Linked DNA regions of Homo sapiens. The protein of the gene in region 2 purifies or fractionates together with the protein of the main gene of each other region. This does not show direct contact. Each region holds a gene or a part of one and is shown on either strand. Other genes may lie near its edges.

The links. The genes of interacting proteins can lie anywhere in the genome.
Region 1: the proteins of IMMP1L (region 2) and DNAJC11 purify together in Homo sapiens (affinity purification with mass spectrometry; one large-scale study listed by BioGRID and IntAct). This does not show direct contact.
Region 3: the proteins of IMMP1L (region 2) and IARS2 purify together in Homo sapiens (affinity purification with mass spectrometry; one large-scale study listed by BioGRID and IntAct). This does not show direct contact.
Region 4: the proteins of IMMP1L (region 2) and MTMR9 purify together in Homo sapiens (affinity purification with mass spectrometry; one large-scale study listed by BioGRID and IntAct). This does not show direct contact.

The regions. Positions count from the first base shown.
Region 1 is NC_000001.11:6,649,817-6,653,420, forward strand, and holds part of DNAJC11 (dnaJ homolog subfamily C member 11), read right to left. Parts: intron 3,136-3,604; coding exon 3,013-3,135; intron 1,787-3,012; coding exon 1,713-1,786; intron 1-1,712.
Region 2 is NC_000011.10:31,456,582-31,462,223, reverse strand, and holds part of IMMP1L (mitochondrial inner membrane protease subunit 1), read left to right. Parts: intron 1-1,509; coding exon 1,510-1,598; intron 1,599-5,642. UniProt on the Homo sapiens protein: Catalyzes the removal of transit peptides required for the targeting of proteins from the mitochondrial matrix, across the inner membrane, into the inter-membrane space. Known to process the nuclear encoded protein DIABLO.
Region 3 is NC_000001.11:220,107,528-220,111,131, forward strand, and holds part of IARS2 (isoleucine--tRNA ligase, mitochondrial precursor), read left to right. Parts: intron 1-3,258; coding exon 3,259-3,410; intron 3,411-3,604.
Region 4 is NC_000008.11:11,291,212-11,294,815, reverse strand, and holds part of MTMR9 (myotubularin-related protein 9), read right to left. Parts: intron 1-3,604. UniProt on the Homo sapiens protein: Acts as an adapter for myotubularin-related phosphatases. Increases lipid phosphatase MTMR6 catalytic activity, specifically towards phosphatidylinositol 3,5-bisphosphate and MTMR6 binding affinity for phosphorylated phosphatidylinositols.

The sequences.
Region 1 (3,604 bases), on a different chromosome or scaffold from region 2:
CCCACCTCAGCCTCCCAAGTAGCTGGGACTACAGGCAAGCGCCACCATGCCTGGTTAATTTTTATATTTTTAGTAGAGGGGGTTTCGCCATGTTGGCCAGGCTGGTCTCGAACTCCTGTACATGTTTGTACATGTTTGTACAGCCTACAATACATGTTTGATAAGAAAGTTATTCATGCCACTGTGCCTGGGCACAGTGGCTCACACCTGTAATGCCAGCACTTTGGGAGGCCAAGGTGGGAGGATCACCTGAGGTCAGGAGTTAAGAGACCAGCCTGGCCAACAAGGAGAAACCCCAACTCTACAAAAATTAGTCAGGCATGGTGGTGCACACCTGTAGTCCCAGCTACTCAGGAGGGTCACCTGAGCCTGGGAGGTTGAGGGTGCAGTGAGCCAAGATTGCATCACTATTCTCCAGCCGGGGTGACAAAGTGAGACCTGTCTCAAAACAAAAAACATATACTCCAGGCTTGCTGAAGTGGCTCATGCTTCTAATCTCAGTGCTTTGGGAGGCCAAGGTGGGAGGACTGCTTGAATCCAGGAGCTTGAGACCAGCCTAGGCAACATAGAGATAACTTATCCCTAAAAAAAACTAAACAATGAGCCAGGCATGTTGGCACACGCCTGTAGTCCTAGTTTTTCGGGAGGCTGAGGGAGGAGGACTGCTTGACCCCAGGAGTTCAAGGCTGCAGTGGACTATGATCGGACTATTGCACTCTAGCCTAGGCAACAGAACAAAACCTCGTCTCTAACAAAAATAAAGTAAAATAAAATAGGCCAGGCGTGGTGGCTCACGCCTGTAATCTCACCACTTTGGGAGGCCGAGGCAGGTGGATCACCTGAGGTCAGGAGTTCGAGACCAGCCTGACCAACATGGTGAAACCCCATCTCTATTAAAAATACAAAAATAGCTGGGTGTGGTGGCACACGCCTGTAGTCCCAGCTACTCGGAAGGTTGAGACAGGAGAATAGCTTGAACCCAGGAGGCAGAGGCTGCAGTGAGCCGAGATCACACCACCGCACTCCAGGCTGGGCAAGACAGAGCAAGACCCTGTCTCCAAAATAAATAAATAAATAAAATAAACTCCATGTGCTCCATTCTAGGACTCCTTCAGCTATATCTTCCTCTGGAAGAAAGAGGTATTATTTACCCTCCACCAATTCTTTTATCTGAGCTCACACAGACATCACTGCACCCACCATATAGGAAATGAAGACACTGCTGTCGTTCTAGAAGGGACAGGGATATACAGTTCTAGGAGTGTGACATGGCAGCAGCAGAGACGACAGGAAGCAGAGGCTGGCTGGGGACTACATCTCTGGCATATGTCAATCAACCCGATGATGAGGCAGTCTGTCATTCTCTGGGACAATGGAACGATCCATAAGTCTGTAAGTGTTTCGGTCCACTGACCAACTCTCCCTGAAGGCACTCTTTCTCCGTGGCCTTGTGGCATAGGTAAGGGAGGTGCGAGACCTGGATGGTGCAGCCTGGCCAGGGCTGGGACAAGGGTCCGGCCCCCTCAATCCTGCCTCTTCCCACCTGCACACTGCCTGGGCTTCACGCCAGTGCTATACCTGCCCTTGATGTACGCAGTGACCTTGTAGGACAGACAAGATAGTGCCAACCACTGTGATAAAAAGAACACACAGTTCTAGTCTCCTAAGCCAACAAAGACCACCAAAGAGGAGCTGCTGTCTCTCATATTTACCATCTTGGTGTGAGATTACGGAACAGCTTGAGACCGAACAAAGGCCCCTGTAGGTCTCCAGCTCCAAATTCCAACTGTTTGAAAAGGAAAAAGAGAAGGCATTAATGGTGTTTTATCTCATAGCAGCAACCCAGGCTCAGGTATGTACCTCTAGGTATAATTCCTTCATTCAATTCACTGGTCTTGCCAGGGCTCTAAAAGAAGGGGGTGGAAGATTGTTAATGTCTCATCTTAACCTTTGCCAAATGGAGCTGTCTGCTGCCACAGATCCAAAGGAGACCCAGGCTTCAAAGGCACATGTTTCATTGGTGTCCCTCCAAAGAAAAAACTGCTCCCCTCTGTTCCTTGCCTCCCAGGCTGAGGTCAGGAGACCAGCTGGCTCCCCCTACCCCTCCCGGCGCAGCCCCCCGCCACCTGCAGAGCACCGACTGCGGTCCGGTGTGCCCCCCACCCCCGCATGCACTGCCGACTCCTTTTCATTTTCATCCTGCGCCAAATGTCTCCCAGGTCACTGGGGCGGTCCTCAGGAGCCTGATGTTAAAGCCCAGCCGCGGTTCCACACCCGCACAGCCTTGGAAGTCACAGCTGAGCCTGGCTGCCGTGTTTACTAGTCTGGGTGACTTTCAAGCAACTCTTCAATGTTAATTTGATGCAGCTCAATTTGCTCGGCAGAACTGGCTGTTAAATGGCCACCAATCAGTGAACCATCACGCGGAAGAGAGCACCTGCCTTCTGAATTGTGCAGGAAAAAGAGCCCACAGGCTTTTTGCTCAAAGGGAACAAACACACGGAGTTTCAGAGGCTGGATTTCTAGAAGTTGGCATCTCATAGGAAACCTTGTTTTTCTATGCCAATTTTAAACTGTGAGGAAGACTGACAGGACTTCTCAGATATGAGACCTATTTATTTATTTATTTTTGAGACGGAATTTTGCTCTTGTCCCCCAGACTGGAGTGCAACGGCGCGATCTTGACTCGCTGCAACCTCTGCCTCCTGGGTTCATGTGATTCTCGTGATTCTCCTGCCTCAGCCTCCCAAGTAGCTGGGATTACAGGCAGGTGCCACCATGCCCAGCTAAGTTTTGTATTTTTAGTAGAGACGGGGTTTCACCATGTTGGCCAGGCTCATGAGACCTATTTTTCTTTTAGGACCAGTCAACTTATGGAAGCTTGACACTTGGTACCGTTCTTACACAACAACGGGGCCCCCAGGGTGAGTTTGAGGGTGAGCTTTGAGAGTGTAAATGTTCAGAAATAAGGCTTTGCACAGACAACACAACTCAGCCAATAGACATTCTTACCTCTCCCCATCCCTTTGCCGAAGTTACTCGTCTGAGCGCAAAGTTAATGGAACCTCCTCCATTTCCATTCTGGGTTGAGAGGCTTCCAGAGAGGATGGCTGTGTCTGTCGCTGTCAAGGGTGCCTAAAAATGGTATTTGCTGGTAATGAATGAATCAAAACAACAGGAAGTGCCAATGGCAGCAGCCTAAAGAACGCACTGTGAGCCCAAGGCCAAAGGTGCAGACGATTCCTCTGTTCAGAAGCACACATGGATGCAGAACTGCCGCAACAGCTTCACTTTTCTTCCGCTTTGTTATTTGGTCTGCATGTGACCACGAGGGTAATATGCTTTGCAAAAGCTTTAATGGGCACATTTCACAACACCAGGGGAAACATGGGGCTGCATGTCCCAATGGTATCAGATAGCACAGTGACTTCACTGTGTGCCTTCCCTCTGTGGTTTGCCATCAGGGTTCCAGGGGGACTGAAGACCTTCCCATGGCTGTATTCTGTATCAACTGACTCAGGGAGCTCCAAGAGGGGGCAAATTTCCCCAAGTTAGGACTCCACGTTGTTGGCTGATGCAATGGAGAATAAATTAATGAGCTGAG
Region 2 (5,642 bases):
CATGCATCAGCCTCCCAAGTAGCTAGGACTACAGGCGCACATCACCATGCCTGGCTAATTTTTGTATTTTTAGTAGAGATGGCGTTTCACCATGTTGGCCAGGCTGTGCACGAACTCCTGGCCTCAGGTGATCTGCCTACCTTGGCATCCCAAAGTTCTGGGATTATAGGTATGAGCAACTGTACCTGGCTGAAACTTGCCTTCTTGATTTTTTTGTAAGTTAGATTGGTACTTCCAAAGGTAGCAAACAAACTGTAATTGTATTTCCTCCTATTTCTGCCTGAGTAGGAACTTTTGAGTAAAAAGTTTTATTTACAAATAGAGTAAATGGAGACTGTCGGATTTAGATTTTTAAAGTGGCGATGATAGTTTTTTCTGATTCTGAGGTAGAGTTTGAGTATCCCTTATCTGAAATGCTTGGGACCAGAAGTGTTATGGATTTTAGATTTTTTTGGATTTTGGAATATTTGCATATACATAATGAGATATTTTGGGGATGGGACCCAAGTCTGAACGCAAAATTCATTTATATTTCATATGTACCTTATATGCATAGCCTGAAGGTAATGTTATACACTATTTTAAAGAATTTTGTGCATGAAACAAAAATTTTGACTGCATGTTGGCTGTGATGCATCACATGGGGTCAGGTATGGAATTTACCATTTGTGGTGTCATGTAGACACTCAGAACATTTCAGATTTTAGAGCATTTAAGACTTCAGATTTTTTATTAGGGACACTCAACCTGTATATATCAAGATTATTGTTTTGAGACATACAAATAGGAAAATCTTTAATTGCTTCATTGTAAAGATGGGTTCTATTTAGGTTGCCAGGTTTGGTCTTGAACTCCTGGCCTCAAGTCATTCTTCCAAAGTTTTGGGATTACAGGTGTGAGCCACCATGCCTGGCCATGAAAATCTTTAAAGTCCATCTCATCATGCTAGTATTTTTCAGTAGAACATTTAAGTTGCAGCCCCATGAAATGAGTAAGCTATTCTCTTGGAAGAGGAAGATGGGCATAAGCTCACTGAGAATAGTATAATACCATTTAGTAAATCATCATCATGTTCACTGGATTATATCTGATAGTAATAAGAAAATGTATTATTCTCCCATTCATTCAACCAATATGTATGGTTTATCAATTTTGTACCAAACATTGTTCTTGGCTTTGGTTATATAGCTAGGAACATGAGAGAGATCTCTGCCTTCATAGAACTGAGATTCTATAGGGTGGCCTAAATTTGGAAACATAGGTAATGTTGTTTTATTCAGGCATTATAATGTGAAAGCAATAATCCATTTATAATGTATTTGTCTATATTTCCAGACTTAGTGGCTACTCTAGAGTTGAACTTACTTGAGAACTGCCAAATTTTCATGAATCATCCCCCAAGCTTTAGGAACATTTGCTTGATTTTCTTTCTTTTAAGCTTGCTTAAAAGATTTATGTTAAATTTAAAAGAGATTTTGAATTTAGATTACAAATTACCTCTCTTTTCAGTGTTCTGGACCATCAATGGAGCCTACAATTCAAAATTCAGATATTGTCTTTGCAGAAAATCTTAGTCGACATTTTTATGGTATCCAAAGGTAAATTTCTGTCATGGATATATTAAATTTACAGTGAAAATACACACACACATTGTGGCTTTTCTGCAGTTCCTTAACTTTATCTTTAAAACCTCTTTCATAAATAAACATATTAATAACCAGCTAGATAAAATTTTGAGTCAAATATTCTCTTTCAGTTTGAGAAATTTTAATAGTTTCTCAAACATATGCAGTGTCTTGGGTCATTGTATCTCTTGCATCATTTTGAAAAATAATTAGCAGTCCCTTACAATATACATGTAAGCTTAACTTTTTTAATTGGGCTTTAGAATATTTTGAGTTAAGAACTAGGAACTTAGGGATTACATTACAGATCCAAATCAATGTTTTTGTTCTTTAATTTTAAAAATAATCCTGTAGTTCTATTGATTGCTATCTTACTTTATATGTAGTCTATGATGACCGTTTGATGGTTTTTATTTTTTTAAATTTTCTGATATACATTTTTTGGATGAGGTCTTGCTCTGGCTCCCAGGCTGGAGTGCAGTGACACGATCTCAGCTCCCTGCAGCCTCAACCTCCTGGGCTCCAGTGATCCTTCCCCTTAGTCTCCCAAGTAGCTGTGACTACAGGTGTATACTCGCCGCGCCCAGATAATTTTTGTAGTTTTTGTAGAGACTGGGTTTCGCCATGTTGCCCAGGCTGGTCTCAAACTCCTGAGCTCAAGCAATCCGCTCACCTCAGCCTCCCAAAGTGTTGGGATTACAGGTGTGAGCCACCGTGCCCAGCCCATTTGATGATTTTTAGATTACATCATTGTATATGGCTGAGAACCAGGAATTGTATATATTATGAGTCTCCTGATTAATTATATTAAGTTGAATAACTCCTGGGCAAATATTGTGTGTCACTAAACCTTTTAAAGTCCTATTTCACAGCAGGCTGAGGCAGGAGAATTGCTTGAACCTGGGAGATGGAGGTTGCAGTGAGCTGAGATCATGCCACTGCACTCCAGCCTGGGTGACAGAGCAAGACTCCATCTCACAAAAAAATAATAATGATAAAAAATCCTATTTCAAGTGGTGGTTCCAATCCTTGTGATACCCTTTATTCCAATTAACTCTATGAGAATGATTTATTCCAAATGAATGTCAAGTATTAATAATTTAATATATTTTCTAAAGAGCACCTCTCTGATACCCTAAAATTTTGAGTCCATTTGTTTTTTATAATTCTGAAAAAAATCTATGCCTGCTTTCATTTCAGTAAACTACAGATTTGATTCCCTTGAGCTAGTGTTTAGTTTATGGCATATTAAGTAGGTTTAGGCACTTCTCTTTCACTATTCACCTTTGCTATAACCTATTTCACATTACTGAAAATTGTTAAGAATACATTTCTTCACATTTACTGATCTTTCACCAGCCTTAGATTCTGCAGATAGAAACTCTCTTGGTCAACCTGTATGGTTTGGCATGCTCCCTAGGTAATTCTTCTTCAAATCTTTTACCCATAACAACTTCTATATACTTAATTGTAGATACAGGAATTATAAAATAAAACTTATATAATAGATTGTGTTGTTGCTCCCTTTTCTTTTTAACTTATATCAAATTATCCTTATATAGCCTTTGAATTAACTGGAGACCTAGCCCCACTGTAGCATGAAACCAAGCATCTGTGTTCCATGCCAGTGACATAATTTTATTCACAATAATCCTTGGGCATCCTGAATGAGGAGATGAACTTGTTGGCTGAATAGTTTTTGAATACACAGCTTGATATTTTTAAAAAAATTACTCGTTGCATTCAGATAAGTGAAACAAATAACTACATTCAGTAAATGAATTCAGATTCTTTGAAGATCTTATTTTGTACCCTATTCATCCAGGTTACAGGACAGCTCAAAATCTGGCATTTATGAGATATACCAAAGTAACTTTTAGAGCCAAGATAGCCAGCTGGTAACTTTTACTTAAGAAATATTACTGTCCTGAGTATTCTCTTTCTTTTACCCACAGCACAGAACTCAAGATTTCAGGGGAATCTTTGACCCCTGGCAAGGTGTCCTGTTGTTAGCTGCCTGTTTCTAAATGTAAAATAACCTTCCATTTAGGCAAGAATAAAAGTTTGCATATCTAGTATCTAAAGCACATGGATGTCTCTTCAGTCAACTGCACAGAACACTCAACCTTGAGACAGTCAGATTTTTACTATTGCTTATTCTTTCAACAAATAGTAGTGAGCACCTAATTTATAAGATGTACCATACATTATAGAGAATGTTAAGATTAATGAGATAATTGACACTAGTTTTCAAAAGCTTACTGTGTAGTAGAATAATAAGGATGTTTATAAATATAAATGAGAAAATTTTTAATAAGCTTCCTTTTAAAACTATTTGAAGGAGTTAAGAATCCAGCCGATATGTATTTTGATCTAAACGCTATGCATATATCTAGTTAGACTACCAGAAATAAAGTTTATTTATACTACTTTCTACAAAACAGCACGACTGAATTATGATTTCTATGTTGCCATTCGAGTGCAAAGTTTGTTTTAAGGGTCATATTGATTATTTGATCAAAGAACTTAAGCTTCATTAGACACCCATGGAAAAACGTCTCTTCCTCCAAAGCTACCCAAAATCAACTTTGATGGCGTGTTACAATCTTTGCAAATTTGTTCATCTGAACAGATCCACTGACATGGTTCTAGTTGGTTAGAAAGAAAATACCTTTATTCTGTTTTCAAAAGAAGGCAACACTGTGTTGCCTCCAAATTATAGAATGTAACGATTTGCTACCTTTCAACTCTTACCAAGAATAGCCTCAAGAGATCATCATTGTAAATACTATTTCTGCACTCTGTGTAAAATTTCTGATAAAGATGGTATCTTTTATTCTCTTATATAAGAAAGTTTCTTGTGAATTTCTCTTTGATTTAGTTGTTAGGGAAAATTTTGTCTTACCTCCCAAGCTAAATGTTATTTTATTAATTAATGATTTCCATGTAACTGGTCTTAATTTCTTCTGACTTGGCTCCCAAAGAGTTTAGAACCCATTTTAATGCTTCTATAGAGCAGTTATTAGGTTTCTGATTTCTTCATAATTTTCCTTTTATTCTTATGACTTTTAATATTATTTTGACATATGCTTCATTAAACTATTTCTGGAACTAGGTACAATTAATAAGCAAATATGTTAAATCCTTTTAAACGTGTGTTAGTCAACAGAATTCACATATTGCTCGTTTTATGCAGAAAGAGTATTGTGTTCTGTTTGACTGTGGTCATTAGTCCTACGTTCTATCTTTCTTCCTTTTCACTTTTTAGGATCTTTCTTATTTTTTATTACCAGATAGATTGTCAGTTCTTCCATAAATCATGACTTCTGTATGTAATCAGACCCTTATTGGTTTTATATGTTTGATATCTCATTTTATTTTTCAGAGTGTATATTTAGGCAGCTTTTAGCATTTTATTTTGTTGTATCTTTTGATTTTTTTTCTCAAATATAAGTTCTTTTGATATGGGTTATAGGACTTACATGCTATCATTCCTCAATTATTTGAGTTCTAGGGAAACATGGATGATGCTTTTACCTTTTTAGTGTGCTCTAGAGTCAATCAGTGCTACTGGCTGGACCGCAATATTTATTTACTTAATTTGTTAGTATTTATATAGAATTGTGTGGAGGGTTTTTTTTTCTTTTTTTGGTTCACTTGGGGTTTTTCTTGGTTTGTTTGTTTTGTGTGTGTGGTTTTTTTTTTTTTTTTTTTTTTTTTTTGGAGACATGGTCTCAGTCTGTTGCCCATGGTGGCACGATCTTAGCCTCACTGCAACCGTGAACTCCTGGCTTCAAGCAATCCTCTTGCCGTAGCCTCCCAAAGTGCTGAGATTATAGTTGTGAGCCACTGTACCCGGCCTATGTAGAATTGTTTTTCCACAATTTTGGTTCTAAGAATTTGGACACAGGAGTAAAGCATACTGGATACAATGCAAAAGATAATTCTTGTAGAATTATCTGAAAGTTTAGAATCTTCTGAAATTATCAGAAATTTTAGATAGCCTTTTTATCACTC
Region 3 (3,604 bases), on a different chromosome or scaffold from region 2:
TTGGGAATCCTCCAGCCTTGAATTGTCTTTCTGTCTTCCTTTACAGATTCAGAGACCAAGTGCTATGAAAACCTTTCTTTGCCCACACTAAGACTAAGGCTATTTAGACCTGATATATTACTTTTCTAGGGCTACTGTAAAAAATCACCGTAAACTTGGTAGTTTGAAACAACAGAAATTTATTCTCTCAAGTGCTGGAAGCTAGAAGTCTAAATTCATCGTACTGGCAGGACCATGTTTTCCTGAAGGTTTTATGGGAGAATCCTTACTTGCCTCTTTCTAGCTTTTGGTGGCTCCTGGAAATCCTTGGCATTCCTTGGTTTATAACTGCGTTACTCCACTCTCTGCCTGTCTTGTCACATGGCCTTCTTTAGATCTTACTTGTTTTTTCGAGACAATCTCACTTTCTCACTCAGGTTGATGTGCAGTGGCATGCTTTCAGCTCACTGCCACCTCTGTGTCCTGGGTTCAAGTGATTCTTGTGCCTTAGCCTCCTGAGCAGATGGGATTACAGGCATACACCACCACACCCAGCTAATTTTTTTTTTTTTGAGACACAGTCTCACTCTGTTGCCCAGGCTGGAGTGCAGTGGTGTGATCTCAGCTCACTGCAACCTCTGCCTCCTGGGTTCAAGCAATTCTCTTGCCTCAGCCTCCCAAGTAGCTGGGATTACAGGATACACACCACTACTCCTGGCTAATTTTTGTATTTTTAGTAGAGATGGGGTTTCACCATGTTGGCCAGGCTGGTCTTGAACTCCTGACCTCAGGTGATCTGCCCACCTTAGCCTCCCAAAGTGCTGGAATTACAGGCGTGAGCCCTCACTGTGTCAGGCCATAATTTTTTTATTTTTTATTTTATTTTTATTTTTTTTTTAAGACGGAGTCTCGCTCTGTTGCCCAGGCTGGAGTACAGTGGCACGATCTTGGCTCACTGCAAGCTCTGCCTCCTGGGTTCATGGGTTCTCCTGCCTCAGTCTCTCGAGTAGCTGGGACTACAGGCGCCTGCCACCATGCCCAGCTAATTTTTTGTATTTTTAGTAGAGATGGGGTTTCACCATATTAGCCAGGACGGTCTCGATCTCCTGACCTCGTGATCCACCTGCCTTGGCCTCCCAAAATGCTGGGTTTACAGGCATGAGCCACCGCACCCGGCCTATTTTTTATTTTTAATAGAGACAGGGTTTCACCATGTTGGCCAGGCTGGTCTCAAACTCCCAGCCCCAAGTGATCCACCTGCCTAGGCCTCCCAAAGTGTTGGGATTATAGGTGTGAGCCACCGTACCCAGCCACCTTCTTTAGGTCTTAAATGTCTCTCTGTGAATCCTCTTTTTTTTTTTTTTTTTTTTTTTTTTATTGGAGGGACTGGTTCTTTATTTCAAAAAGACACTTGTCAATATTCAGTATCAAAGCAGGTGGACTATTGATTTCTGTTTCTCCCAATCGGCCCCAAAGAGACTATATCAAAGGACAGTACGTTTTAAGCCAGTATGCTGCAGGATGTACACCTGACAGACTTTACAGAAACCTTATCGGAAAGTGGGGATTGGGTAGGGAAAGAAACTTTAAAAGATCAGCAAACTGCCAGCCCGGCCAGGCACGGTGGCTCACCCCTGTAATCCCAGCGCTTTGGGAGGCTGAAGCGGACATATCACGAGGTCAGGAGTTCGAGACCTGCCTGGCCAACATGGTGAAACCCTGTGTCTACTAAAAATACAAAAAATTAGCCAGGTGTGGTGGTAGGTGCCTGTAATCCCAGCTACTCTGGAGGGTGAGGCAGGAGAATCACTTGAACCTGGGAGGCAGAGGTTGCAGTGAGCTGAGACTGCACCACTGCACTCCATCCTGGGCAACAGAGCGAGAGTCCATCTCAAAAAAAAAAAAAAAATCTGCCAGCTCACAGACTGTAGAGGGCTGTCACAGTCAAACTGGGTGGCCAGGGTGCCACCCAAAGAAGCAAAGTTTCAAAATAATACAAAAATTTAAAAAAGTTTTGTACATAAGCTATTTAAGATTTCTCTAGCATTAACTGATATTAAGCACAATGAGATGGCACTTTTAGAGACAGCAGCTTCAAACCCAGAAAAGGGTAATGAGATGAGTTTCACATGGCTGAATCAGTGGCAAAAACATAATCTTCTTTCTATCCTCCTCTAAGAACACCAGTGCTCCCTAATGCAGTGTGACCTCATCTAAACTTGATTACATCTGCAGAGGCCTGATTCCCAAGTAAGGTCACATTCACTAGTGCTGGGGGTTAGATCTTCTTGGGGACACAGTTCAACCCACTACACCTGGTTTCCTCCAGATTACCTGGAGACCATTTTAAGATTCATGGCATGAAAGATTATGGATCTAAACTTCAAATGTAGAATTCTAGATATAATCTGTTCATCTTTTCTTTGACGTGAAAAGAGGTAGAAGTGGCATAATTTGGAGTCTGATTAAGATTTTACAGTCCGTGCTTTTTTTTGCCAGGAGAATCCCAGAGCACGCCTTTGATACCTGGAAGGTGACTACTCTTTTTTATTTTATTTTTTTTTGTGAGACAGAGTCTCGCTTTGTTGCCCAGGCTGGAGTGCAGTGGCACAATCTCGGTTCACTACAGCCTCCGCTTTAGCTTAGGTTCAAATGATTCTCCCACCTCAGCCTCCCAAGTAGCTGGGATTACAGGCTCACACCACTGTGCCCTGCTAATTTTTTTGTATTTTTAATAGAGATGGGGTTTCACCATGCAGGCCAGGCTGGTCTTGAATTCCTGACCTCAAGTGATCCTCTCGTCTCTGCCTCCCAAACTGTTGGGATTACAGGCGTGAGCAACCACGCCCAGCCAAGTTGACTACTCTTTTATTTTTTGAGACGGAGTCTCGCTCTGTCACCCAGGCTGGAGTGCAGTGGCACGATCTCGGCTCACTGCAACCTCTGCCTCCCAGGTTCAAGCGATTCTCCTGCCTCAGCCTCCTGAGTAGCTGGGATTATGGGCACACACCACCATGCCCGGCTGATTTTTGCATTTTTAGTAGAGACGAGGTTTCACCATGTTGGTCAGGCTGGTCTCGAACTCCTGACCTCGTGATTTGCCTGCCTCAGCCTCGCAAAGTGCTGGGATTACAGGTGTGAGCCACTGTGGCTGGCAAGGTGACTACTCTTATTGCCACCTGTTGCTGCAGATTTAGTATTTTCTGGAAGTTTAGAGCATTTTTAGGATTTTCACAGTACTTTTTAATTATGTCTAATTTGGTGTTTTTTTTTTTAAAGTTATAAAGATGCTTCAGACTGCAAAGAATTTGTTGAAAGAGGAGAAATTGGTGCATAGCTATCCGTATGACTGGAGGACCAAGAAACCTGTGGTTATTCGTGCCAGCAAGCAGTGGTTTATAAACATCACGGATATTAAGACTGCAGCCAAGGTATAAAAAGCATCCTGTTTTAACAGGTCGGGCATATCATTCCCTCAGTATAAAGGGGCTGCATGTGAGGTTGAGGTGGGGTTTCAGGAGTAATAGGGATTGCTGCTATTATGATTTAGTTTCATAACATTGTAGAATTTTAGATCTGGAAGGACCTTGGACTTCCATTTTTTCATTATACATGTGTGAGAAAT
Region 4 (3,604 bases), on a different chromosome or scaffold from region 2:
TATGTATCAATTTATAAAAAGCAAAAGGGCCGGGTGCCGTGGCTCACGTCTGTAATCCCAGCACTTCAGGAAGCCAAGGCGGGTGGATCACGAGGTCAGGAGATCAAGACCATCCTGGCTAACACAGTGAAATTCTGTCTCTGCTAAAAATACAAAAAATTAGCTGGGCGTGGTGGCATGCAGCTACTCAGGAGGCTCAGGCAAGAGAATCGCTTGAACCCGGGAGGCAGAGGTTGCAGTGAGCCGAGTCTGAGCCACTGCACTCCAGCCTAGGTGACAGAGTTGAGACTCTGTCTCAAAAAAAAAAAAAAAAAAGTGAAAGTATTTGACAAAATCTAACATCCATTTCTGATTTAAAAACATGAAAAACCAAAAATTTCTCAGCAAATTTGAAACAGAAGGGAACTTCCTCAACCTGATAAGGGCATTTACAAAAAACCCCACAAAAAAACCCCTAAATCTAATAGCACACTTAACGGTGAAGGATTGAATTATTTCTCTCTAAAATCATGAATAACACAAAGATGTTCACTGTCACCACTTCTAGTCAACATTGCACTCAAGGTTATAACTAGTGCAGTAAGGTAAAAAGAATAAAAAAGGATTAAAAAAGAAGTAAAACTACCTTTATTTGCAGATGACGATTGTGTAAATGTACCCAGAATTTTCTTTTTATTGTCAATTATTCCCCAAATTCATCCAGTGATACAACATAATTCCAAACAAAATCACAGCAGACTTTAATGTAGAAACTGAAAAGGTGATTCTAAAATTCATATGGAAATGCAAATGTCTTCAAATAGCCAAAACAACTTTGAATAAGAACAAAGTGGTATGGCTAACACTACACAATTTCAAGGCTTACTATAAAGCTACAGTAATTAAGACAGTGTGAAAATGACATGATGATAACAGATCAACTGAACAGAAAAAAAGAGTCCAGAAATAGATCCACTTACACGTGAACAGAGATACGAAGACAATTCAATTGAAGACAGGTCAGTCTTTTCAACAAATGGTGCTGGCACAACTGGATAGCTTTTTTTTTTTTTAAAGAATTTGAATCTATAATCATGAACCATATACAAAAACTAACTCAAAATGGGACCTTTTACCTAAATGTAAAACCCAAAGCTATAAAACTGCTAGAAGAAAACATGAGAGAAAATATTTGTGACCTTAGGTGAGGCAATGGTTTCTTAGATAAGACACTAAAATCCCAATCTATAAAAGAACAAACTGACAAATTGGACATGTTCAAAATGTAAAACGTCTGCTCTTTGAAACACAGGGTTAAAGAGCATGAAAAGGTAAGCCACGGGGCATTCCTGTAGGCTATTGAGGACTTCATCAACAGGCTACACTAAATTTACTGTTAAAATGTTTCTTTCTTCAACAATAAATTAACCTTACCTTACTGTAACTTTTTTACTTTATAAACTTTTTAATCTCTAACGTTTTACCTCTTTTGTAATAACACTAAGCTGAAAATACAACACACCATACAGCTGTACAAAAATATTTTCCTTCTTTATATCCTCATTCTATAAGCTTTTTCCAATTAAAAAATTTTTGTTGGTAAACTTTCTTGTTAAAACCTAAGACACAAACACACACATTAGCCTAGGCCTACACAGGGTTGGGATCATCAATGTCACTGTCTTCCATCTCCACATCTTGCCCCACTGGAAGGTCTTCAGGGGAAATATTAATAACATACATGAACCTGTCATTTCCTGTGATGATAATGCCTTCTTCTGGATAATTCTTGAAGGACTTGCCTGAGGCTGTTTTACAGTTAACATTCTTTTTAGAAGTATAAGCAGTATACTCTAAAATAACAATAACAAGTATACTATAGTAAATACATAAACCAGTAACAAAGTCGTTTTATGATCGTTTATAAATATTATGTGATGTATGCAATGGTATGTGCTACATTGTTGTGTAACTGGCAGCCCAGGTTTGTTGTTTATACTGGCATCACCACAAACACAACGTCACTGGGCAAGAGAAACTTTTCAGGTCCATTATAATCTTATGGGACTACCATCATATATATAATAAATCACATGACTGTGTATGAATATACAAACATACACTCTCAAAACGCAGTAAGAAAGCAAATAATCCATTACAAATGGGAAAACTATATGGATGGTCACTTAGCAAAAAAAAGACATATGGATGGCAAATAAGCATATGAAAAGATGCCCTACACCACTAGTCATAAGGGAAATGCAAATTTAAGCCACAGTAAGATACCACTTAACATCTATTGGAATTGCCAAAATTTAAAAGACAGACCATAGCAAATGCTGACAAGAATGTGGAGGAAATAGAACTCTCACACACTGCTCATAGGTATGTAGAACTGTAGGTACAAGCACTTTGGAAAACAGTTGGGGCAGCTTCTTAAAAAGTAAAACACATACCTACATCTGATCCAGCCATTCCACTGGCAAGTAAATGGCTTGCCACCCAAGAGAAAAGAAACCACATGTTCATTCAAAGACTTGCATAAGAATATTAAAAACAACTTTATTTAATAGCCTCAAATTGGAAACCCACATTTCCATCACCAGGTGAATAAATGAACTATGGAATACTGCAAAATGGACACTTAGTACTCAGCAATAAAAAGAATGAACTATTGATATATACAACATGGACAAATCTCAAAAGAGAGTACTGCATGATTTATGATATACTGACATAAATTTCTAGATAATGCAAACTCATCTGTGACTACTTGGAAAAGAAAAGAAGGAAGGGATTACGAAAGGGCACCACAAAACTTATGGGGGTGATAAATTCATTATCTTGAACTTATGGTGACAGTTTCAGGGTGTGTACATATATCAACACACATCAAAGTTTACACTTCAAATATATATAGTGTGTAATACGTCGACTGTACCTCAATAAAACTGTTTTAAAAATCACTGTCATTCTGCTTCAGCTGGAAGTGAAAGACACACAGCAACCAAACTGTCAGTAAAAAAACAAAAAAAATGTACAAGACATACGGTTATTCTCTTGTAAATTTCCATATCATCTATGCTTGTCATACTAACTCATTTTGTAAGGTGAATTTTGTTTTGTTAGTCTGGCAGGTTTTATGTAGTTGCTATAAAGTATAATGAATGACTAGAGGAGTTAAAAATAATTGTTACTTTATGTCAGAATAAATATGCTATAAACTATTAAGGTATTCTCCATTCATTTATTCAATGTTTCTAGTCAGTTACTTATAGAACAGTGGGCCAAGAAAAATATGTTTTAAAAACATAAGAGCTCCACAAAACTCCTATGATTCACATCAATTGTCAGATTCAGTTCTATTTTATCATTTTGTCCTTATTGTCCCATCCATGCCCTGTATACATCCCTATCACAGCATTTAAAATACTTTATTAAACTTTCTAGTTTATATGTTTATTTCTTATAATGGTCTTAGTTTTTTCAGGTAGAAGGCATGTTTGATTAATTTCTATATCCTCAGCTCCTAGTACAGCACCTAGCATATACACCATCTTAAAGTTCCACTAAGGGACTTAAAGGAAGATCTGAATAAATAATGTAACATTGTTCATGGATGTCA